Linked DNA regions of Homo sapiens: region 1 is linked to region 2. The links come from fine-mapping of genetic effects on gene expression. A gene starts in region 2. The other region holds a variant in brackets. All regions are shown on one strand. Distances are from middle to middle. Region 1 has its middle 230 kb from the start of MIR548F3. Region 2 holds the start of TMEM232 (transmembrane protein 232).

Evidence for each region.
Region 1: its variant is fine-mapped to the expression of TMEM232 in thyroid (GTEx, PIP 0.96).

The regions. Positions count from the first base shown.
Region 1 is chr5:110,277,235-110,290,086 of GRCh38, reverse strand. No RefSeq gene overlaps it. Among named protein-coding and RNA genes, the nearest start is that of MIR548F3, 230 kb to the left of the region's middle. The variant C/A (reference allele first, on the strand shown) is at 7,484.
Region 2 is chr5:110,719,601-110,732,452 of GRCh38, reverse strand. It overlaps TMEM232 (transmembrane protein 232), which reads left to right and starts at 5,782. Exons shown (of 14, transcript NM_001039763.4): 1 at 5,782-5,826.

The DNA.
Region 1 (12,852 bases), 440 kb after region 2:
TGAACCCTGGTAGCTAAGTTCTCATAAAGCCTAAAATTAACTGTAATCACCTTTGTATAGTATATTATTTAAAATCCCGTAATGGCAGAATGCAAACAGGAAACCTTCTTCTCTCCTTCCCTCATAAGACCGTAGACCAAGTAAAGCTTATTCCCCATTTCCCTTTCCAATGGGGACTCTTTAATAATAAAATGAAAAGATTTCAGCCTTCCTTTGCTGCAGTAGCTCCCAGGCCTACCTAACTTAATAGCACTGTAAAGCTCTACTAGTTGCACTCCACAGATAACACATTAAAGTGTAGCTCTGGGTGAGAAATAACCTGCCATCAAAGCCTCCCAAGAAAAACACATTCATTAGACATGAAAACAACAAGAGAGAAAAGCTCGTTTTCCCTCAAAGGAAGTGTGAAGTGTTCAAGATTCTGAGATCACACTAAATCCTAGAAAGCCATGAACAACCTTGTATCTTTGATAAAGCTGCTTTGGTGTGAAGGGGTTGAGTACTTAAGGTATTATGTCACATTTAACCCAAATCGCAGGTTATGGTCTCCACTGACTGTTTCTGCTAAAGTTCCAACCCATCAGGTCCCCTGAGGAGAAATGAAAATGATGTTATCTGCTAATGATGTGACTTTCAATCCTGACAGGAGGAAATAGCTAATGCAACAAGCCTTCCTCTCACAAAAGGAAGCCATTTACATAACTCTGAGCTTCTGAAGGAAGACACAAAGTGAGATGAATGAATTTAAAATTTCCTCAACTTGCTGTCAAGAAAGGAGCTGGAAGCAAAGCCAAGGATCTCAGTTTTCATTCCTGTTTATACTTCTGGCTTATTAAAACATCCATGAGCAACCCATTCACTTTGCTTCTCTTGATTTCACGTTTATTAAATCTTAAAACACATGAGGCTCTGGTGTTCCCAAGTCATTCAATCCCTCCAAAAAGTCCATAAAGCCTGATTCTGATCATCATTAAAGCCTCTAAATAGTAAGTAGATTACTCACATATGAAACTGGTGTTTGTGGTTTAGCTAAGCTGGAACTACACTTCTCGGAGCTCCCTTCTCTGTGTGGTTCATGTTAGGATTGGCCACAGGGGACATCTGTATAGGATTAGGAGGTTTGGGTGTACCAGCAGCCGTTATTCCCAGGAGGAGCCTCTAAAGCTCTTACACACTGCTGCTGATTTCATAACCCACCTTGTTGCATTACTCAGCAGAAAATTGGGCCTGCAGCCCTTTGACTCCCACCTAATCTCCTTTCATTTATTTCCAGGCTCATATGCAGCTCTACAGCAAAAGGCCTCAGATCCTCCAGCAATATTCCCCATCATCAAGGCGAGATGTAGGGAGAGGCTAACGTGGGTTCCAGTTTGTCCTTGTGGATTCCATTTGTCCCTGCAGGTTCCTATGTCCCTGGCCTACATCCAGCTTGTCTTCCCCATTGCCTATCCTGTAACCGCAGTGATTACAGCCTGCTCCAGTAGCAGAAGCAAGAGCTTTTCTTAGACTTCTTTCCCTTTGTGGTCCCTGATTAGTTTCTCTGATCATCCAATCATCCCTTCCAGACTTATGCTTCCCCAGGTTTCTTAGAGTATTATAACACCTAATCTCTGCAATAAATCATTTATTTCATGTCTTTTATTTCCTGATCAAAACCATCTCACACTTTCATGAGTCAGGAGTTTAGGAAGAACTCAGCAGGGCATTTCTCCTGGCCTCAGTTGTTGACTGGGTCACTAGGTAGTCCCCAGCTGGTAGCTGGACTATCTTGAGAGTCGAAAGCAGCTTCTGCCATATCTGTGACACCTCGGCAGGGCATCTGAAAGCTGGGCTCTACTCGACGCCTCTACTTCGCATGTAGTCTGTTCCACAGAATATTTGAACTTGTAATAAGGAGATTTTTGGTTTCAAAAGAGCAAGAAACTGCCCAGTCATCTTAAAGACTAGCCTAGAAAGAGCATAACACCATTTCCACTGTATCTCCCTGGTCAAAGAAGTCACAAACCAACCCGGATCAAGGGGACAGGAAAGAGACCCAACCCCTCAATGGGAAGAATATCAAAGAATTTTCAACCATTTCTTATTCTACCACAAAACTAAACCGGCCTCATTGAAGTGTTAGAATTAATTTGGTTAGAATTCTGTCCTTTCCTCATATTTCCTCCTCACCACTTTCACTGCCTTTTTGCTTATTTACTTATCTACTCATTTACAGTTATTTCATGTGATACCTGGGAGGGCCAAATCCTTTCATTTGGCCTCTTCTGCTTCCCAGATGAAACTATAAGCTCTTTGGGAGCAGCACTGGTCTCTCCTATAGCTATCTTCCATTTGTCAGTGTCCCCAAATCTGTAATCTCTGGGAAGTTCAGAAATAGAAAATCTAGTCTATGGGAGGCTTAACAGTCCCAGCTGCTCAAGAACTAGAAGTGAAGTGTAGTGTAATGCTTTACATGTAGTAAATATCCCCTGGTGGCAACTGACTGAGAGAAATGAAGTCAGTAGCCTCTTTCATTCCATCAGTCTCAGGCTCCTTTTATACAAACCAAGAGTGTGGAAATAGATGGTTTTCTCCCTCATTATTTAAGTAACGTCCACCATGAACCTAAGTTTAAAAACAATGAATAAGATTTAAAAAAAGTTTGATTCTGAAATAATTCCAGTCTCATGTATAGGTTTCAAAAAATATCCCCAAGAGCTCCTGTGTACCCTTCACCCAGCTTCTGCAAATAACATTTTATGTAACTATAATAAAATGATCAAAACAAGGAAGTATATTTGACATAATGCTATTAACTAAACAATAGACCTTATTAAGATTTCACAAATTTTTACATAATCTTTCTTTTAATTAATTTAGGGTTTATGAAATATTATCACATGGATACATTCATGTAACTACCACCATAACGAGAAAATAGGACAGAAATTTCTTTACCCCACAGAAATTTCCTCCTGCTAATGCTTTATGGTCACACCCTCACCCACCTCTATCAAAGACAGCCCAGAAAACAATGGTACAATGGGAAGTGGATAATAGCAGTGAACAGGTCCATCTAGAAGAGGGAAGAATGAGAAATACGCCAGAGACATTAATCTGTGGCAATGAAGTAACTATCAGAACAAGCCTTCTGAGGTCCCTTATCTAACAGTAGAACAAGTTCTTTAATTAAATCCTGATTCTGCTATTTGGTAATGTCACAGGAAGCAAGAAGCAAACTGTATCACAGAGATTAATAGCAGGGGGTTTGCAAGAGAATGTTCTTGTGAACATCTGTGAAGAGAAGCCAAAAAAATAGGACTAAGAAGATGGAGAAGTAGGTCTGTGATACAGCCTCAGTGCAAGTTTCAGCTACCCCATGGAGAGCTCCAAACATAAAGATGGAATGTGCCTTTAGTACTATCCTGAGGTGGATTGACAAAACTGGGTCTTTTTGTCCCACAGTGAACAGTCACTAGACCTGAGAGGGCATCATGATGTTGGAGAAGGCAGCTAATACCTGTCAGAGATCAGCACACCTAGTGCTGGGGGTAGCACATTCTAGAATCAGGAATGGAGGTCCAAATGGAGCACCCCAGCGTCCCTCTCAAGACAGGCATTGTCTTTTAGATCCTGAGTTGCTGGACATGAAGCCTCTTTAAACCTAACATATGGCACAGTACAACACCCAGATATTGTAGGCTTTGAGCTGGATGGGGTAACCATTTTAGGCTTATGAGGAGGAGAGTGGTCTATATGTGGGCACAAAGTGCAACAGTATATTTGGAAGCCAGTGGGGTAGACTTTGTCAAGGACAGGTAGCTGTCCACCAGAATTGCATGTCCTCACTTCATGGATGCAGAGTTATCTCTGGAATTTGGCTTTCCAGGCCTCAACTGCATTTCTGACCCTGCCCTCATTCAGCAGTGATATGTTTTGGCTGTTTCCCCACCCAAATCTCATCTTGAATTGTAACTCTCACAATTCCTGCATGTCGTGGGAGAAACCTGGCGGGAGGTGATTGAATTATGGGAAGGCGGGTCTTTCCTGCACTGTTCTCATGATAGTGAATGAGTCTCTTGAGATTTGATGGTTTTAAAAAGGGGAGTTTGCCTGCACAAGCTCTCTTTGCCCGTTGCCATCCATGTGAGACATGACTTACTCCTCCTTGACTTCCACCATGATTGTGAGGCAACCCCAGCCATGTGGAACTGTAAGTCCATTAAACCTCTTTCTTTAATAAATTGCCCAGTCTCAGGTATGTCTTTATCAGCAGTGTGAAAATGGACTATTACAAGCAGTTAACATGGCCCAGTGTCCAAGTGCTGTCCACTGCGATAAAACAGAAGCGGTGAACACTATGTGCACCCAAGACCTATCATGCCTGAAGCAGTGTCCTCCAAACTGTTTTCCCTTAGTCAAGATGCAATGGATTCAATCCCTCAGGGCAACTTGGAAAACTATGTTTCAAAGATAACAGAATCTCACTGAGCATGAGTCCCAGGAAATGGATGAAGGAGTGCCTTTTTCCATCCTGATCACCTGCCAAATACTGTCATGTGAGCAGGAAATGAATTTGAGGCCTTATACTGCTTTGGTGTTTTTTTGTTTGAGCAGCTATCACTATCTGATCTAATACAACCCACATGCTGACATGCACACACAAATAGTTAAAAATATAAAATTAAAAAGATATTACTTATAGTAGCCACAATGATATAATATTTCTTGGTGGAAATCCAACAAAATTTACAAGTTCTTAATGGGGAAAATTATTAAAGTTTATTAGAAGACATTAGTGAAAGCCTAAATGAGAGAGATAAAGAAACAGAGAGGAGGGGCAGTGGGGAGAGAACGGAGGTTTATATCCATGTAGAGGAAGATTCAATAATGTAAAGATGTCACTTTTCCTAAAATTATGATAAAGATTAAATGCAAGCCCTATCAGTTGTCAACCAGGTATTTTATTAAACTTGACAAGTTTATTTTAAACGGACATAGAATAAAAAATGGTCCAAAATAACTGAGACACTCCAGAAAAAGAATAAGGCAGGGAAACTCTCCTTTCTAGATATCATGATTTTCAAAAAAATTATTAGGATTAAGATAACATGGTATTAGCACAGATATAGATAAAACCAGTGCACCAGAATAGAGTCCTGAAGTAGATCCACGCATATATTGAAACATGATGCATGATGAATCAGGGTGGAACGAATAGACAATATTATCAATGGAACTGGGGAAAGAATTTGTCATCCAAAATTAGATTTGACTTTAAGGGGAAAAGCAAAGCTTTTTAAAACTTTTAGGGGAGGAGCCAAGATGGCCAAATAGGAACAGCTCCAGTCTACAGCTCCCAGCATGAGCGGCGCAGAAGATGGGTGATTTCTGCATTTCCAACTAAGGTACCGAGTTCATCTAACTAGGGAGTGACAGACAGTAGGTGCAGGACAGTGGGTGCAGTGCACCGTGCACGAGCTGAAGCAGGGCCATGCATCGCCTCACTCGGGAAGTGCAAGGGGTCAGGGAATTCCCTTTACTAGTCAAAGAAAGCAGTGACAGATAGCACCTAGAAAATCGGGTCACTCCGACCCTAATACGGCACTTTTCCAACAGCCTTAAAAAATGGCACACCAGGAGATTATATCCTGCACATGGCTTGGAGGGTCCTACACCCACAGAGTCTCGCTCATTGCCAGCACAGCAGTCTGAGATCAAACTGCAAGGCAGCAGCGAGGCTGGGGGAGGGGCACCTGCCATTGCCAAGTTAGTTGTTTGATTAGGTAAACAAAGCAGCCGGGAAGCTCGAACTGGGTGGACCCCACCACAGCTCAAGGAGACCGGCCTGCCTCTGTAGGTTCCACCTCTGGGGGCAGGGCACAGACAAACAAAAACACAGCAGTAACCTCTGCAGACTTAAATGTGCCTCTCTAACAGCTTTGAAGAGAGTAGTGGTTCTCCCAGCACGCAGCTTGAGATCTGAGAACGGGCAGACTGCCTCAAGTGGATCCCTGATTCCCAAGTAGCCTAACAGGGAGGCACCCCCCAGTAGGGGCAGACTGACACCTCACACAGCTGGGTACTCCTCTGAGACAAAACTTCCAGAAGAATGATCAGACAGCAGCATCTGCAGTTCACCAATATCTGCTGTTCTGCAGCCACCACTGCTGATACCCAGGCAAACAGCATCTGGAGTGGACCTCTAGCAAACTCCAACAAACCTGCAGCTGAAAGTCCTGTCTGTTAGAAGGAAAACTAACGAACAGAAAGGACATCCACACCAAAAACCAATCTGTACGTCACCATCATCAAAGACCAAAGGTAGATAAAACCACAAAGATGGGAAAAAAACAGAGCAGAAAAACTGGTAACTCTAAAAATCAGAGCGCCTCTCCTCCTCCAAAGGAATGCAGTTTCTCACCAGCAATGGAACAAAGCTGGATGGAGAATGACTTTGACGAGTTGAGAGAAGAAGGCTTCAGAAGATCAAACTACTCCGAGCTACAGGAGGAAATTTGAACCAATGGCAAAGAAGTTAAAAGCTTTGAAAAAAAATTAGATGAATGGATAACTAGAATAACGAATGCAGAGAAGTCCTTAAAGGACCTGATGGAGCTGAAAACCAAGGCATGAGAGCTATGTGATGAATGCAGAAGCCTCAGTAGCTGATGCTATCAACTGGAAGAAAGGGTATCAGTGATGGAAGATGAAATGAATGAAATGAAGTGAGAAGAGACGTTTAGAGAAAAAAGAATAAAAAGAAATGAACAAAGCCTCCAAGAAATATGGGACTATGTGAAAAGACCAAATCTACGTCTGATTGGTGTACCTGAAAGTGACGGGGAGAATGGAATCAAGTTGGAAAACACTCTGCAGGATATTATCCAGGAGAACTTCTCCAATCTAGCAAGGCAGGTCAGCATTCAGATTCAGGAAATACAGAGAACACCACAAAGATACTCCTCGAGAAAAGCAACTCCAAGACACATAATTGTCAGATTCACCAAAGTTGAAATGAAGGAAAAAATGTTGAGGGCAGCCAGAGAGAAAGGTCGGGTTACCCACAAAGGGAAGCCCATCAGACTAACAGCGGATCTCTCGACAGAAACCCTACAAGCCAGAAGAGAGTGGGGGCCAATATTCAACATTCTTAAAGAAAAGAATTTTCAAACCAGAATTTCATATCCAGCCAAACTAAGCTTCATAAGTGAAGGAGAAATAAAATACTTTACAGACAAGCAAATGCTGAGAGATTGTCTCACCACCAGGCCTGCCCTAAAAGAGCTCCTGAAGGAAGCGCTAAACATGGAAAGGAACAACCGGTACCAGCCACAGCAAAATCATGCCAAATTGTAAAGACCACCAAGGCTAGGAAGAAACTGCATCAACTAATGAGCAAAATAACCAGCTAACATCATAATGACAGGATCAAATTCACACATAACAATATTAACTTTAAATGTAAATGGACTAAATGCTCCAATTAAAAGACACAGACTGG[C/A]AAATTGGATAAAGAGTCAAGACCCATCAGTGTGCTGTATTCAGGAAACCCATCTCATGTGCGGAGACACACATAGGCTAAACATAAAAGGATGGAGGAAGATCTACCAAGCAAATGGAAAACAAAAAAAGTCAGGGGCTGCAATCCTAGTCTCCGATAAAACAGACTTTAAACCAACAAAGATCAAAAGAGACAAAGAAGGCCATTACATAATGGTAAAGGGATCAATTCTACAAGAAGAGCTAACTATCCTAAATATATATGCACCCAATACAGGAGCACCCAGATTCATAAAGCAAGTCCTTAGTGACCTACAAAGAGACTTAGACTCCCACACAATAATAATGGGAGACTTTAACACCTCACTGTCAACATTAGACAGATCAATGAGACAGAAAGTTAACAAGGATACCCAGGAATTGAACACAGCTCTGCACCAAGGGACCTAATAGACATCTACAGAACTCTCCACCCCAAATCAACAGAATATACATTCTTTTCAGCACCACACCACACCTACTCCACAACTGACCACATAGCTGGAAGTAAAGCACTCCTCAAAATGTAAAAGAACAGAAATTATAACAAACTATCTCTCAGACCACAGTGCAATGAAACTAGAAATCAGGATTAAGAATCTCACTCAAAACCGCTCAACTACATGGAAACTGAACAACCTGCTCCTGAATGACTACTGGGTAAATAATGAAATGAAGGCAGAAATAAAGATGTTCTTTGAAGCCAACGAGAACAAAGACACAACATACCAGAATCTCTGGGACTCATTCAAAGCAGTGTGTAGAGGGAAATTTATAGCACTAAATGCCCACAAAAGAAAGCAGGAAAGATCCAAAATTGACACCCTAACATCACAATTAAAAGAGCTAGAAAAGCAAGAGCAAACACATTCAAAAGCTAGCAGAAGGCAAGAAATAACTAAGATCAGAGCAGAACTGAAGGAAATAGAGACACAAAAAACCCTTCAAAAGATTAATGAATCCAGGAACTGGTTTTTTGAAAAGATCAACAAAATTGATAGACCACTAACAAGACTAATAAAGAAAAGAGAGAAGAATCAAATAGACCCAATAAACAATGATAAAGGGGATATCACCACTGAACCCACAGAAATAAAAACTACCATCAGAGAATACTATAAACACCTCTACGCAAATAAACTAGAAAATCTAGAAGAAATGGATAAATTCCTCGACACACACATCCTCCCAAGACTAAACCAGGAAGAAGTTGAATCTCTGAATAGACCAATAACAGGGTCTGAAATTGAGGCAATAATTAATAGCTTACCAACCAAAGTCCAGGACCAGATGGATTCACAGCCGAATTCTACCAGAGGTACAAAGAGGAGCTGGTACCATTCTTTCTGAAACTATTCCAATCAACAGAAAAAGGGGGAATCCTCCCTAACTCATTTTATGAGGCCAGCATCATCCTGATACCAAAGCCGGGCAGGGCACAACAAAAAAAGAGAATTTTAGACCAATATCTTTGATGAACATCGATGCAAAAATCCTCAGTAAAATACTGGCAAATCGAATCCAGCAGCACATCAAAAAGCTTATCCACCATGATCAAGTGGGCTTCATCCCTGGAATGCAAGGCTGGTTCAACATATTCAAATCAATAAACATAATCCAGCATATAAACAGAACCAAAGACAAAAACCACATGATTATCTCAATAGATGCAGAAAAGGCCTTGACAAAATTCAACAACCCTTCATGCTAAAAACTTTCAATAAATTAGGTATTGATGGGACGTATTTCAAAAATAACAAGAGCTATCTATGACAAACCCACAGCCAATATCATACTGAATGGGCAAAAACTGGAAGCATTCCCTTTGAAAACTGGCACAAGACAGGGAGGCCCTCTCTCACCACTCCTGTTCAACATAGTGTTGGAAGTTCTGGCCAGGGAAATCAGGCAGAAGAAGGAAATAAAAGTATTCAGTTAGGAAATGAGGAAGTCAAATTGTCCCTGTTTGCAGATGACATGACTGTGTATCTAGAAAACTCCATCGTCTCAGCCCAAAATCTCCTCAAGCTGATAAGCAACTTCAGCAAAGTCTCAGGATACAAAATCAATGTGCAAATATCACAAGCATTCGTATACACCAATAACAGACAAACAGAGAGCCAAATCATGAGTGAACTCCCATTCACAATTGCTTCAAAGAGAATAACATACCTAGGAATCCAACTTACAAGGGACGTGAAGGACCTCTTCAAGGAGAACTACAAACCACTGCTCAATGAAATAAAAGGATATAAACAAATGGAAGAACATTCCATGCTCACGGATAGGAAGATCAATATCGTGAAAATGGCCATACTGCCCAAGGTAATTTATAGATTCAATGCCATCCCCATCAAGCTACCAATGACTTTCTTCACAGAATTGGAAAAAACTACTTTAAAGTTCATATGGAACCAAAAAAGAGCCCGCATTGCCAAGTGAATCCTCAGCCAAAAGAACAAAGCTGGAGGCATCACGCTACCTGACTTCAAACTATACTACAAGGCTACAGTAACCAAAACAGCAGGGTACTGGTACCAAAACAGAGATATAGATCAATGGAACAGAACAGAGCCCTCAGAAATAATGCCGCATATCTACAACTATCTGATCTTTGACAAACCTGACAAAAACAAGCAATGGGGAAAGGATTCCCTATTTAATAAATGGTGCTGGGAAAACTGGCTAGCCATATGTAGAAAGCTGAAACTGGATCCCTTCCTTACACCTTACACAAAAATTAAATCAAGATGGATTAAAGACTTACATGTTAGACCTGAAACCATAAAAACCCTAGAAGAAAACGTAGGCAATACCATTCAGGATATAGGCATGGGCAAGGACTTTGTGTCTAAAACACCAAAAACAATGGCAACAAAAGACAAAATTGACAAATGGGATCTAATTAAACTAAAGAGCTTCTGCACAGCAAAAGATACTACCATCAGAGTGAACAGGCAACCTACAAAATGGGAGAAACCTACTCATCTGACAAACGGCTAATATCCAGAATCTACAATGAACTCAGACAAATTTACAAGAAAAAAACAAACAACCCCATCAAGAAGTGGGTGAAGGATATGAACAGACACTTCTCAAAAGAAGACATTTATGCAGCCAAAAAACACATGAAAAAATGTTCATCATCACTGGCCATCAGAGAAATGCAAATCAAAACCACAATGAGATACCATCTCACACCAGTTAGAATGGTGATCATTAAAAAGTCAGGAAACAACAGGTGCTGGAGAAGATGTGGAGAAATAGGAACACTTTTACACTGTTGGTGGGACTGTAAACTAGTTCAACCATTGTGGAAGACAGTGTGGCGATTCCTCAGGGATCTAGAACTAGAAATACCATTTGACCCAGCCATCCCATTCCTGGGTATAAACCCAAAGGATTATAAATGATGCTGCTATAAAGACACATGCACATGTATGTTTGTAGCGGCACTATTCACAATAGCAAAGACTTGGAACCAACCTAAATGTCCAACAACAATAGACTGGATTAAGAAAATGTGGCACATATACACCATGGAATACTATGCAGCCATAAAAAAGGATGAGTTCATGTCCTTTGTAGGGAGATGGATGAAACTGGAAACCATCATTCTCAGCAAACTATCGCAAGGACAAAAAACCAAACACCGCATGTTCTCACTCATAGGTGGGAATTGAACAATGAGGACACATGGACACAGGAAGGGGAACATCACACTCTGGGGACTGTTGTGGGGTATGGGGAGGGGGGAGGGATAGCATTAGGAGATATACCTAATGCTAAATGAGGAGTTAATGGGTGCAGCACACCAGCATGGCACATGTATACATATGTTACTAACCTGCACATTGTGCACATGTACCCTAAAACTTAAAGTATAATAATAATAAATAAATAAATAAATAAATAAATAAATAAATAAAAGACAACTAGGAAATACACGTCATAATGTTCATGCTTCTAATAGTTAAATGCTTTCAATAGTGACAAACTTATGGGAACATCCTTAAGTGTCTGTAGGCAGAGAATGGATGAATTGTGGTATATCATACAATGATATGCCAGTCTGAAGTGAAAATAAATGTGCTGTAGCTATAGGTCTCAATATGGATGAATCTCAGACACAAAATGTTGAGTAGAAAGCAAGATTTAGAAGAATACATAAATATCTTATAGTTTACATAAATTTCAAAGCATTCTTTTTTAAATATATATTTAAATGTATTACAGCCATTCCTCAGTATCCCCAAGGTATTGGTTCCGGGACACTGCCCACCCCCCCCATACCCAAATGCACAGATACTGAAGTTCCTCTATAAATTATCTCTACATTATTTATAATGCTTCAAATACAAGGCAAATGCCATGTAAATAATTGTTATATTTTTATTCTTTCATTGTTACTTTTTATTATTTAAAAAATGTATATTTTTTATCTAGAGTTGGTTGAATTTGTAGATGCAGGACCTACAGATATAGAGGGCCAACAATAAAACCGTAACAAAAAGCGAGTCAATACTAAACCTGAAAACCAGAATAGCAGTTAGCCCCCAAGGCATCTGTGGGGGCATATAGGAAGGACACCTAACTCATTCTGGGAAGCTAAGGGTGAAAACGACCAGGAAACAATTCCTGAAGAACATGACAGCTGAGGTGAGTTTGTAAGAAATAAGATGTGTGCAAGCAAAGGTTGGGCGGGAAAAGGAGAGGAGGGAGAAGAAACGGCAAGGAGGTGAGAGAGATGTAAGAGAACATTCAGAATAGTGCTGGGAGTTACACCTGGCTGTAGTGAGAGATGAGTGCAGCAGTTTGCTGGTAAACGTTTAATGACTGAGTCTTCAGGGAGGAAAATGTGCGTACACACAATATAAATGTATATATTGACGTAATATATAAAAACATATAAATGTAACCTTATTGTAAATTTTACTGACATGAATGATGTGTAGCTCATTGATACGGTTTGGATCTGTGTCCATGCCCAGATCTCGTGTAGAATTGTAATCCCCAGTGTTGGAGGTGGGGCCTGGTGGGCGGTGATTGGATCATGGAGGTGGTTTCTAATGGTTTAGCACCATCCCCTTCATGCTGACTTGTGATAGAGTTCCCACAAGATCTGGTTGTTTAAAAGTGTGGCACCTCCCCTGATTCTCTCTTCCTTCATCTCCAGTCATGTAAAAAGTACCTGCTTTCCGTTTGCCTTCTGCCATGATTGAAAGTTTCCTGAGGCTTCCTCAGCCATGCTTCCTGTTGGTGGCAGATCCATGAGCCAATTAAACCTCTTTTCTTTATAATTACCCGGTCTCAGGTATTTCTTTATACCAG
Region 2 (12,852 bases):
AGTCCAATTAAACCTCTTTTTGTTCCCAGTTTTGGGTATGTCTTTATCAGCAGCATGAAAATGCGCTAATACAGTGAGTTGGTACCAATAGAGTAGGACGTTGCTGAAAAGATAACCAAAAATGTGGAAGCGACTTTGGAACTGGGTAATAGGCAGAAGTTGGAATAGTTTGGAGGGCTCAGAAGAAGACAGGAAAATATGGGAAAGTTTGGAACCTCTTAGAGACTTGTCAGTGGCTTTGACAAAATGCTGATAATGATATGAATAATAAGGTCCAGGCTGAGGTGGTCTCAGATGAATATGAGGAACTTCTTCGGAATTGGGACAAAGGTGACTCTTGTTATATTTCAGCAAAGAGACTAGTGGCATTTTGCCTTTGCCCTAGAGATTTGTGGAACTTTGAACTTGAGAGAGATGATTTACAGTATCTAGTGGAAGAAATTTCTAAGCAGCGAGGCATTCAAAAGGTGACTTGGGTGCTGTTAAAAGCATTCAATTTTAAAAGGGAAACAGAGCATAAAAGTTCAGAAAATTTGCAGCCTGATGATGCAGTAGAAAAGAAAAACCTATTTTTTGAGGAGAAATTCAAGCTGGCCACAGAAATTTGCATAGGAAGCAAGGAGCCTAATGTTAATCCCCAAGACCATGGGGAAAATGTCTCCAGGCCATGTTGGAGACTTTCATGGCATCCTTCCATCACAGGCCTAGAGGCCCAGGAGGAAAAAGTGGTTTTGTGGGCTGGCCCCAGAGTCCCCATGCTGTGTGCAGCCTAGGGACTTGGTGTCCTGTGTCCCAGCTGCTCCGGCCATGGCTGAAAGGGGCCAGTGTAGAGCTTGGGCTGTGGCTTCAGAGGGTGGAAACCCTAAGCCTTAGCAGCTTCCATGTGGTGTTGAGCCTGCAGGTGCACAGAAGTCAAGAATTGAGGTTTGGCAACCTCTGCCTAGATTTCCGAAGATGTATGGAAACACCTGGGTGCCCAGGCAAAAGTCTGCTGCAGGGGTGGGGCCCTCATGGAGAACCCCTGCTAGGGCAGTGTGGAAGGGAAAGGTGGGGCAAGAGCCCCCACACAGAGTCCCTACTGGGGTACTGACTATTGGAGCTATGAGAAGAGGGCCACCATCCTCCAGACCCCAGAATGTTAGGTCCACCAACAGCTTGCACTGTGCACCTGGAGAAGCTGCAGACATTCAATGCTAGCCCATGAAAGCAGCCAGGAGGGAGGCTATAACCTGCACAGCCACAGGGGTGGAGCTGCCGAAGACCATGACCTGGAGGTGAGACCTGGCATCAAAGGAGATCATTTTGGAGCTTTAAAATTTGACTGCCCCAGTGGATTTCAGACTTGCATGGGCCCTGTAACCCCTTTGTTTTGGCCAATTTCTTCCATTTGGAATGGCTGTATTTACCCAATACCTGAACCCCCTTTGTATCTAGGAAGTAACTAGCTTGCTTTTGATTTTACAGGCTCATAGGCATAAGGGACTTGGCTTGTTGCAGATGAGACTTTGGACTGTGGACATTTCGGTTAATGCTGAAATGAGTTAAGACTTTAGGGTACTGTTGGGAAGGCGTGATTGGTTTTTAAATGTGAGGACATGAGATTTGGAGGGGCCAGGGGCAGAATGATCTGGTTTGGCTGTGTCTCCACCCAAATCTTAACTTGAATTATATCTCCCAGAATTCCCGTGTATTGTAGGAGGGACCTGGGGGAGGTAATTGAATCATGGGGGCCAGTCTTTCCTGTGCTATTCTCGTGATGGTGAATAAGTCTCACAAGATCTAATGGGTTTATCAGGGGTTTCTGCTTTTACTTCCTCCTCATTTTTATCTTGCTTTCACCATGTAAGAAGTGCCTTTCACCTCCCGCCATGATTCTGAGGCCTCCCTAGCCATGTGGAACTGTAAGTCCAATTAAACCTCATTTTGTTCCCAGTTTTGGGTATGTACTTATCAGCAGCATGAAAACAAACTAATACAGTATCAAATAGAAATTATTTACAATTAAGTTATACACTCCATGGCAAAACTAAACTGATATCACATAATATCAAAAATAGTTAAGAAATTGTCATCTAGAAAGTTGTTAAATTACAAAATCAATATTAATTCTAATGCAACAGTTCAAACTGATAAATATTTTTTCATGGCTATAGTTTTTTCCTATGATTCACTTTTGGTGTCAGATTGTTTTCCCTGGAAAATCAATTCTAATCTAGGAAGGTAATTGCAGTATTATGGACTAATTTGAATCGTGTCAGTGAAGATGCTAATAGCCTTGATTCCAAGCAACTGGAGGACTGAAGCTTAAGGTTTGAGAAATATGATTGAAGAAAATATAATGCATATTTTAAATTGTGTAACTTACTAATAGTTTCATCTCTTTCCTGACTTTTTAATGAGTACTCACTAGGTAGATTTCTCTAGGTAAAATTTTGATAAGTGCTATATAAGAGCACTCAGAATGCTAAGGAAACATTGAAGGATGTCTTCTAAGTTATCCTGAGAGAACAGTCATTGCGTTGGAAGGCTTCTAAAATGAGGTGTCTTCCCAGGTGAATGTGTCACTTTGGTTGAAGATAACAGAAACTCAATTTGTTACTTTAAACAGAAGATTTGACAGGATAATCAGGGTTTATAGAATTGATGGAAGGCTGTAAGTCAAGGATTGAAATGGACAGGAAAAAAAAATGCTGTTCTAGAGGACCAAGAAGCAGGAGGTACCACAACTGTCTTTTGGCAGGAAAATCTGTAAGGGTGCTGCTATCATGGCCCAAGGCACAGTTATTGCTACTTTCATCTTGATATTATCTGCTAAAAATTCAAATTCTTAAACTAGAACACATACTTGGCCAAACTTCTGTCATATTCCAACACAGAGTTCTGAGAAAATATAATCTGCCGTTTTTGGCTTTTGTAGTGGATGATGAAACACCACTTCCCATTCATATTACATGAAGAATTCCCCAGGTAGCATGGAAGGGTGATTGGATTCTCCAGATCCAAAATGTTGACAAATGTCTAACATCCGAGTCTTGATCAAGAGTAAGCATTTACCTGGTGTGTGGTTATTAGGGAGCAGGGGGTGGTATGCGTTTGTGTGAGTTTGTGGCAGCAGTTGAGGAGTGAGTGGGCAAGTATATTTTCAGACAGAGGAAGAGCATGCATGAGGTTATTAAGAAACGAGAGCTCATGATATGTTTAGGAAACTTAAAATATTTTTTAATTGATTACATAGCAGTGGAAAAAGTTTTAAAAATAAAGAAGACTGGGCCAGGCACGGTGGCTCACGCCTTTAATCCCAGCACTTTGGGATGCCAAGGTGGGTGGATTACCTGAGGTCAGGAGTTCGAGATCAGCCTGGCCAACATGGTGAAACCCTGTCTCTACCAAAAATACAAAAATTACCCAGGCGTGGTGGCAGGCGCCTGTAATCCCAGGTACTCGGGAGGCTGAGGCAGGAGAATCGCTTGAACCCAGGAGGTGGAGGTTGCAATGAGCTGAGATCGCTCCATTGCACTCCAGCCTGGGGGACAAAAGCGAGACTTCATCTCAAAAAATAATAATAAAATAAAATAAAAAAGACTGGTAAAAAAAAAAAAAGCAGAAAAAAACTGGGCAAGTAGGCAATGATATAGTTTCTGAAAGCATAATTGTGCCATACTAAGGGGTTAGGATGGTTTTGACATGCTTATTTTCCTAATTGCTAATTAATGGCCATTTTAGGATTATATATATATAGGTATATATATAATAATTTGAAAAAATTAGATTTGTCTTGTCAAAACTTCAATGTAGATGACTAATTAAAGGGAGAAAGGGGAGGTATGACTTTATTAGATTTATTTTTCTTACATAAATTTTCTAAATATTCTTGTCATTTTTTAAAATCATTGTGGGTCTCCTATTAGCTTAATATTATTGTGACTCTAAGGTTATACCAATATTATCTTAAAATTATTTAAAATTATTTCCTGTTTTAAGCTTCATTCCTCTGAGATTTATTGTTGCTATGGTATGAGATAGTAGTTCAGATTTATTTTCTTTCAAATTGTGCTCAGCCTCTGTACAGTTTTTCCCCACTGAGTTAAAATGGCAAATTTATCATATATAAATTTTATGCTTTTTCTGTAATCTTTCATTCTACTGATATATATATAAATAAAATCAGTAGATACATATATAAAATCAGTAGATATATTTAGAATAAGTAGATATGTGTAATATATATATATATGTATTTGTGAATTCTTCCTTATATAAACTTGTTCTGTTGTCTTCACTGTAGAATCGATGGGGTGACTTTTTTTCTCTAAACATGCTATAGTTTCAACTGATTCTTATATTATGGAGAAGAATTTTTTATTCGGCCTTCCTTTTATTCCTTTTTAATTCAATCTTCATTTGATTATGAATAACCTGGTTAACAGTTTGTATTTTTTTATGCTTTTAACACTTTTCTAGATCTCTTGAAATTAAAACAAGCAAGCCCCCAGGCTATTATTAAATACCACAGTCTTTTCATTTTTATTTTATCTGGATTATGGTAAGCACTGTTGATATTCTAGGATTTGTTCTCTCACATATGTAGTTTATAGTCTTTGTCAATTTCACTTTTCATTATTACCTTTAACTTACTGATCTTCTAGGAGTGATACGTCAGAGAAGCCTGAGATCACATATTGTAATTTCTGTTTTAAACATAAAAATGCACTCAAAAAACAAAAAAACTTAATTCCGAATCGAAGTAGTTCAAGTTAAATTTTCTTTCAAAGTTCTAATTTTTAAAGGCAGGTCATTTCACAGGACAATCCCTGTATATTACGTTTTAGTATTTTTTTTTTCTTTAGATGGAATCTCGCTCTGTTTCCCAGGCTGGGGTGCAGTGGCATGATCTCGGCTCACTGCAACCTCCATCTCCTGGGTTCAAGCAATTCTCCTGCCTCAGCCTCCTGAGTAGCTGGGATTATAGGTGGGTGCCACCACGCCTGGCTAACTTTTGTATTTTTAGTAGAGACGGGTTTCACCATGTTAGCCAGGATGGTCTCGAACTCCTGACCTCGTGATCCGCCCACCTTGGCCTCCCAAAGTGCTGGGATAACAGGCATGAGCCACTGCGCCCGGCCTACGTATGAATTTAATCATAAATGCCCTTCCCCATTCTTCCATATAGTATTTTACACTGGTGAACCTTTGTAAAATATATACAGTTGCTCGTTAGTAGACATAGGAATTCTACAAGGATTTTTAAAGGACTTATATTAGATAATTCTATTGCATACTACCTTTAAAAAGAGGCGTTCTTTTGTGTTTAAATTCGCCCTCTGGTGTTTAGTACATAGCAGAACATTCTAGGTGCTTTGTTTACTCACTGACGGGTGCTGAGGACACTGACTGCTCCAAATTTTCTATGTAAAAGGAACTTACGAACGGCAATTTAATTTAAAGACATAGCTACTTTTGGTATGATAGGCGTGCTGGTTTGTTTTGGGGAAGCAGCATTAAGACACTGAGGAGACATTAAAGCACTGTGAAGCCGCTTCTTGCCGTGGCTTCTTGCAGGATATGCAAGTATGTACAATATTCGAAACAAATCATTACTATGTTCTTTAAAAACGAATAAAGGTCTTTCACACAACATTGCATTTATTCTTTAGAAATTGAACACAAATGTGGTGGAGACGGGACAGGGCAGGTGGAAATTCACTTATAAGTCCTGATTGGCTAAGCCCTGGTCACGAGACCGTAAAAGAGCAACGTCTGTCTCAGAGCGACTCCCACAGCGTCCTTAGCAACCAGCCTTGGTTCCCAGCGGCTCAGAGCGCAGCGGTGAGTGATTAAGAGGTCCTGCTTCAGATGATTTGGGAGCTCAGGTTATTGTCATATTCACCATCCTAGGGCAACTGAAAGACCCACAAAGATCCTCACAGGGGAATACTGAGCCTCCTTTCTCAGGGTGCCATAGCTTTGTTAGAAGAAACACTACTCGCAACCCCAGGCTGGGCCTGCTATCTGGGCCCCTCCTAAGAGTCTAAGCAGTCCATCCTGGAAAAGCCACCAGGTCGTTTGATAGGGGAAGCTTTTTTGTTGGGGAGAATAAAGGAGGTGGGAACTTTCTTATTGCTATGAATAGGGAAATTCATTTAATCTCCCCTGGACTCGCTTATCCTGGGGCAACCTTGAATTCAGAAGACCAGTCTTCACACATCCTCTGTGGTTGGTGAAATTGCACCTTTTTGATTTTTATTTATTTATTATTTATTTAGTATGAAGACTCTTGGACTTCAAAAGAGAAGGTTCAAAAATTTGGCGCTCTGTGTGTGTGTGTGTGTGTGTGTGTGTGTGTGAAAGAGAGAGGGGGGTATATTGGAGATGTGTAATAAAACAATTTTTAAAAGCCGTTAATCTTGAGAAAAATATCCAAGTTGTCTATTAGAAAAATTTCTAGGAGGGGATAAGACTGTAGTAAGAGTCTCTTATTTACCTTACCATCTTAACAGTATGTCTGAACAAATTCTATCATTTGGTTGGTCAAATAATTTGCTTCCTCAGGTTAGAGTCTAAATCTTATATTCTCTAATGCATGTTACCTTTCCAAAGTCTTGATATAATTTTAATATTATCTGTTTTTCAGAAATTGTCTTTTAAAGTATACAGTTTCAACCTCATTTTTATTGGAACTTTAAAAAAATACATGAAGAATTAATAGTAAAACTAAAAAAAGAAATCTGGGTCTGTGCCAGGTTGCAGATGAACTGCCAAGCACCCAGGCAGACTGCTGGAGCCATTTCATGAGCTGAAACATTTCTCTTTAAAGTATAAACATTCTTGGTTTGGGTAATCCACATACATACTTGATTGAAGGTAGCAGATTTTTATTTCACTAAGACCTATTCTGCATGGACCCTTATGATCTTAATGAGTAGTGCTATATTCTTGCTGAACGTCTGATTCATTATCAGAATCATTCATTGTTATGATAAATTTGATAAATGTTCCTGTCTTGAAGTTCATTGTCCATCCAGAGCTCCTGGTAAAGTGTCTGCTCACAAATGCTTAACATTTTCCAAAATGTGTCCTGTATGTAGTTCTAGGAGATGATGTTCTAAAGATTTCTTTAGTCAATAAATTTTAAAGTACTACATGTCACACTGCTACTCAGAGAGATGTAGAGTATATATGAGAATATTAACACTGAGAAATCTTAGTATATGCAAACCTACTTATTTTTGTCTAATCCAGTGGTTTCTCAAACATTTCACAACAGAAAGCTTTTCGAGGTAGTTTCATCCCAAGAAGCAGTATTTTACAGAATGTATTTTAGAAATTAATGTTCTAAACTATATATCACACTTTTTATTTTTGCTTATATTTCCATAAAACCAAATGAATTCATTTCTTTAAAATGTTTCCTGCTGATTCATTACAATACCAAAGAAAACAAATCTCTTTAAAAAATATACCACCTTAGTAAATTATTTTATTCCTATTACTTTCATTGCGTTTTCAACAGTAATATAATAAATCACTTGCTAAATCTATATCGACTTTAGGATTACTAGCTTCTTACTATAACATGGCAAGTTTTTTTGTTGAAACCATATTTTTAACATTATAATATTTATTATGTAGCAGGTGCTCTATACCTATCTGGTGAATGAATAAATAAAAGATAATTGATTTCTTTTTTAGAGTTCCTTTCTGCAGAAGACTAGTCATTTAACTATTTGGTGAATGAATAAATAAAAATAGTTGATTTATCTTTTAGGATGCCTTTCTGCAGAAGGCCAGTTAAATGATCTTAACAGTAGTCCACCAGAAAAATGATGAGAACCTAATCTCATGGCAGTGGCCGTGATCTAGGATTTGATTCCTGATTGTTTTGGGAAGTTATAGAGAGCATGGAATTGAGGATAACTCTGAAATTTCTAGCTTGTCAGTTTGAGTGATTATATTAACTGAGATTTATTAAAATAATACTGGATTAAGAGCAGTGTTTAGGGACCTGAAATGAGAAAATAACAGGTTAAGTTATACACAGTTTAGATGTTTCAAGTACTCGTCTTTGAGCTGGGTGCCCAGAATTCAGTTGGAAAACAAATCTAGAGCTCAAGAGAGGTCAAGATTGGAGGCAGCTGCTTGGGAGTCATTGTTCTACAGTGTGGTTTACAGTATAGGGATGGATGGCATCAACTCCAGAGAGGTGAGAATATGAAGAGAAGGGTATTCTGGCCACAGGACTGATGTGAATATCGAAAGATATAAAGTATGTGAAAGTACTTTGCAAACAATAAAGTCCCATGCAAGAGTTATTATTATTACATCCCAGAAGGCTTACTGAAGAAATAGGTTTGAACTAGGGTTTTCAGGAAGGTGTGAGATATCCTAGGATTGTATTTGATGGAATATAACAGAAACTCGTCTCCAACAACTTGACTGTGGTTCATCTCTAATGCCATAAATGTTCCAGGCTTCTGTCTTTGTGTCCCATCATCTTTGTATGTGGTTTTCATCTTCCTGGTCATCTCTTGATAGCAAGGTGACTGCTCTATCACCATTCTTATGTCTATCATCCAGGGAGGTAAAAGAAATTGGGAAGGGACAAGGAAGAAGGTACTGTGCCTCTATCATGAAAGTAAACTTTACCAACATCCCCTACTAAGCTTTAGCTAGAACTCATAGTTGCAAAGAAAGCTTCAGGAGAAATGTTTTTTAGCCAGAGACTTTGCTGCTCCAAACAAAATTAGGGTTGCTTTAATAAAACAATGGAAGAGTGAATATTGGATAGGAAGCTAGTGGTACCAAGAGATATAGCAGTCCCTAGGAGTATAGATGATAATGTATATAGGGAGAGTTGTGTAAACAGAAGTAATGCTTTGCTAATAGCTAACAGTCTATACAGATTTTGAGATTTTCAGGATACTCATTTAGAGTCTAATTTAAACATAATGGTACCCATGGATAATAATCTCAGTAGGCCCCCAAATATAAACAACTTGTGATCAATGTACTAGCCAAGAAGTAGCCATGATTTATTATATTTGAACTCTATTACATTGATACAAAAATATAATAGATATTTTGCCAAACAGGAAAGCACACAGCCCCACCTGTCTCTTACATTTGAGGTATGTTTCTGATTGAACACATAGACTTCAGGTTATGTGTCAACTGGTCTAATGCCTTAAAGGAATTTCAATTAAAAACAATAACCACTGCCAAAACTCACAAAGGAGAAAATAGATAATCTGAATAGACCTATAACTATTAAAGAAATGGAATCAATAATTAATAGCCTTCCAAAACAGAAAGTACCAGGCCCAGATAGGTTCACTGGTGAATTTTACCAAACATTTAAGGAAGAAATTATATCAATTATCTGCAAGTTTCTTTCAGAAGATAGAAGCAGAGGAAATACTTCCTAACTCATTCTTTCAGGCCAGCATTACCCTAATGCCAAAATAAGACAAGGACATTATAAGAAAAGAAAACTACAGACCAGTCTCTCTCATGAAAATATATCCAAATAGCCTCAACAAAATATTAGAAAATTGAATTCAACAGTAAATACAAAGAATTAACTCTGTGTCTACTTCTGCTCCTGGATTTGTTCACTTCCACTAACATACAGACAGATACACAAACAAGCATATAAAAAGTACTATGGCTGTGGTAGCCAGCCTCTAAGATGCTCCCAATAATCTTTGCCTCTTGACATTCACACCCTTTTGTAGCTCCTACTCACATTGAATCATGGCCCTTCTGTATGACCAATAAAATGTGGTGGCAGTAAAGTAATGATACAGGCTTTGCAAGGCTAGGTATAAAGGCATTTAAGCTTTCATCTTGGTTTCTTGGATTGTTCTCTCTGGGGGAAGCCAGCCTCCATGAGAGCACACAGGAAGCTCTGAGGAGACGTCCACATGAAGAGGAACTGAGGCCTGCTACAACAGCCAGTGTTTACTTGACAGCCGTGTAGTGAACAAACCACCCTGGAAGTGGATCCTACAATCCTAGTCAACTCTTTAGAGGACAGGACTGACTGAACTTAGATGACTAGCTGACTGACTGACTGAACCTGCAGCTGCCATTTGACTGCAACTTCATGAGAAACCATGAGCCAGTTATACCCAGCCATGCCACTAACAAATTCCTAACCCAGAGGAACTGTGAGAGATAATAAATGGCAGTGAGTTTTGGAGTGATTTGTTATACAAATTAGATAATTAATACAACAGCCAAGCCTTTTGTGAGTTTATTTTTCTAAAGATATAGGGGAAAAGGTGATTTCATTGTAAGAACTTTATTTCTGCCATGTCCTTTCTTCTCTCATTCTGTCTTCCATTTCCACCCTACCACATCTCTATCTTCTGCAGCCTCCCACTTAACCTCCAACCCCTGACAATGTTTTATGTGATATCAATAAAATACTGCCCTGGAATTCAGCACTCTAATGGTTTGGCTGCTGCAGAAATAATATTTTTATGTGTTTTAAGAAGTGATTCTAACTATCAGGGGCAGTGCCACCTGCTAGGCAACATAAATGCATGGATGTGCTTCTGCTTCTCTCCCATAGCTGCTTCTTCTAAGATTCCTTTTTCTAAGCCACCCTGGGATTCTGATGAATAAATTTATATTTTTCCTTCTTGTTTAAACTATGTCTTTCTTATTCGGATGTCTAATATACAAAACAGGTAAAAATGGAGCTGCTCTGGTCAGTCTAGGGAGGCAGACGCACCCCCTCTTACTTCCCAAACACTAACACACACAGATATATATATACACACACACACACACACATGATATGCAGACTCACACATCTCACACATATGATAGCTTATGAGTCATTTCTGTGGAGCATAGCTTGAAATTCAAAATTCTAGATCAGTATTTCTCAAGGCAGGAGAGGTTGTGATACTGTTATCTTGAGAACAACAGTTCTTACTTATGAGGTACTCTCTCGGAATTGAGGAATATATTTAGCAACCCTGGACCCTGGGCACTGAATGTCCGTTATCAGAACCCTAGACATTATGACAAACAGAAGCACATCCATGCATTTCTAGATGTTACCTAGAAGGTAGTATTGCCCATGATAGAACCACTTCTTAAAAGACGCACAAAAAGCTTGTTTCTGTAGCAGCCAGACTATTAGAAAGCTGAATGCCAGGGCTACATTTTATTGGTGTCACACAAAATCTATCAATGTTTGTTGTAATGTCATATATTTATATTGAGTGTAAAAGACTGCCCCATGAAACTGTTTATTATTTTTACATTCAGGAGGTTATTCATTACATTATATCCTATCTTCTTTATGATGGCTTTAGAAAAATTGTCTTATAACTTTACCGGGAATAACTTTTTCCCCTGCAACTAGTTTGTTTTTAAGCAGTAAATTGTGGCTTTCAGCATTATTTTAAGATGAATGTATACTATACCTTTAGCAAGTGAGTATATATGAATTTGTGGCATAGATTTTGTATGTTCATCTCACTATATCTCACTTTCTTACCCTATTTTGTTCTTACCTATTTTTTCCAGTTTAAAATTTAATTTTCTCTTATATTTATTTTTAGAACTCATCTGAAAGACTTTTATAAATGACAGTGCATCAACAGTTGAGCATGTGTTAACGTGGAGTGGTATATTAATAGAAAGAAGCATAATATAGCACAAAGCACTCAGTCAAGCTTCTAGTCCAGAAAGCGTATGATTTTATCTGAAGTAATTTGGAATAAATTTACTTGAAGGCAAGGTATTCTATATGAGAAGTTAGGCCAAATGTTGATTTGGACAAAAGTGAATGTAGTAAAATGGGAAAAAAATCCTGAAGGCTGGCATCAAAATAACTCTTAAACAATGAACTATTACAGAGATTTCCACTTGAGTCATGACTCATGCCATCTTCCCCTCAAGTGCAACATAAGGTAAGCTGAACTTTGTGCAGATGTGGCCAAGATGATGGGACTCCCTCTCCCCTAAGCTTCCAATCAAGGGTTACTGTATCTTATTAGTAGGGGCAGTCTGCCAGCATTTCTAATCCCCTTCAACTCAAATTTAAAAGACTAATTTCCTGGTGATTGTGGCTGAGAGGCTGGGGGCTCCCTTACTTCACCCAGTCTTCTTCATGCATAAGAAAGAGGCTTTATATTAGGTTCAGCAAGACAAGAATATTGATACCCTAATTTCCCTCGTTGCAACTTATTATAGGGGAGAGGTTTCACAAGAGAAGAGGCAAGCCAAGAAGACTGGAAGCTACTGCTCTGCTCAGCTCCTAGAATAGTGGCTTGGAGACTGCCCAGGGGAAAAGGCAGTCTGTAAGAAAAAACTCTGAAATCCTCCCCAAAGAAACTAACTTTATTTGAAACATAAGGTTCAAGCCTAATGCTGCTCTTGAAAATAATTTCTTCTCTAAATTAAGAGCAACAAGCTGAACTTCAGGACATCTAGTTCACCAGCGAGAACCAGAACAAGGGACAAGTAAGAAGAGCCCTTAAAACTGTCTCTGCCTGAATTTAATTGGATCAGACTGCTGAGCAATTTATACTCTAGAGCATTTTTTAAAACAATAGAGTAATTAGTTGATAATTACTGGAGGCTAATGGGCTGGCATGTAACACAGAATGAGGCACACAGTTTAACAGAGAGAGTAGAGAAAAAGACAAAGAGAGCCTTGCCAAATTCACTGTCATCCCAGGGTGACGGTGTGAATGCCCAAGGCTGTACCCTCTGAAGAGTGGCATCAAAAGCTTCACAGAGTGGAACAAATATAATTTACTAAAATATCCTAGCCAAGTCACAAAATAAGCAAACAATATCAAAAACAAGCTCAGAAGAGGGAGGAAGCAAATC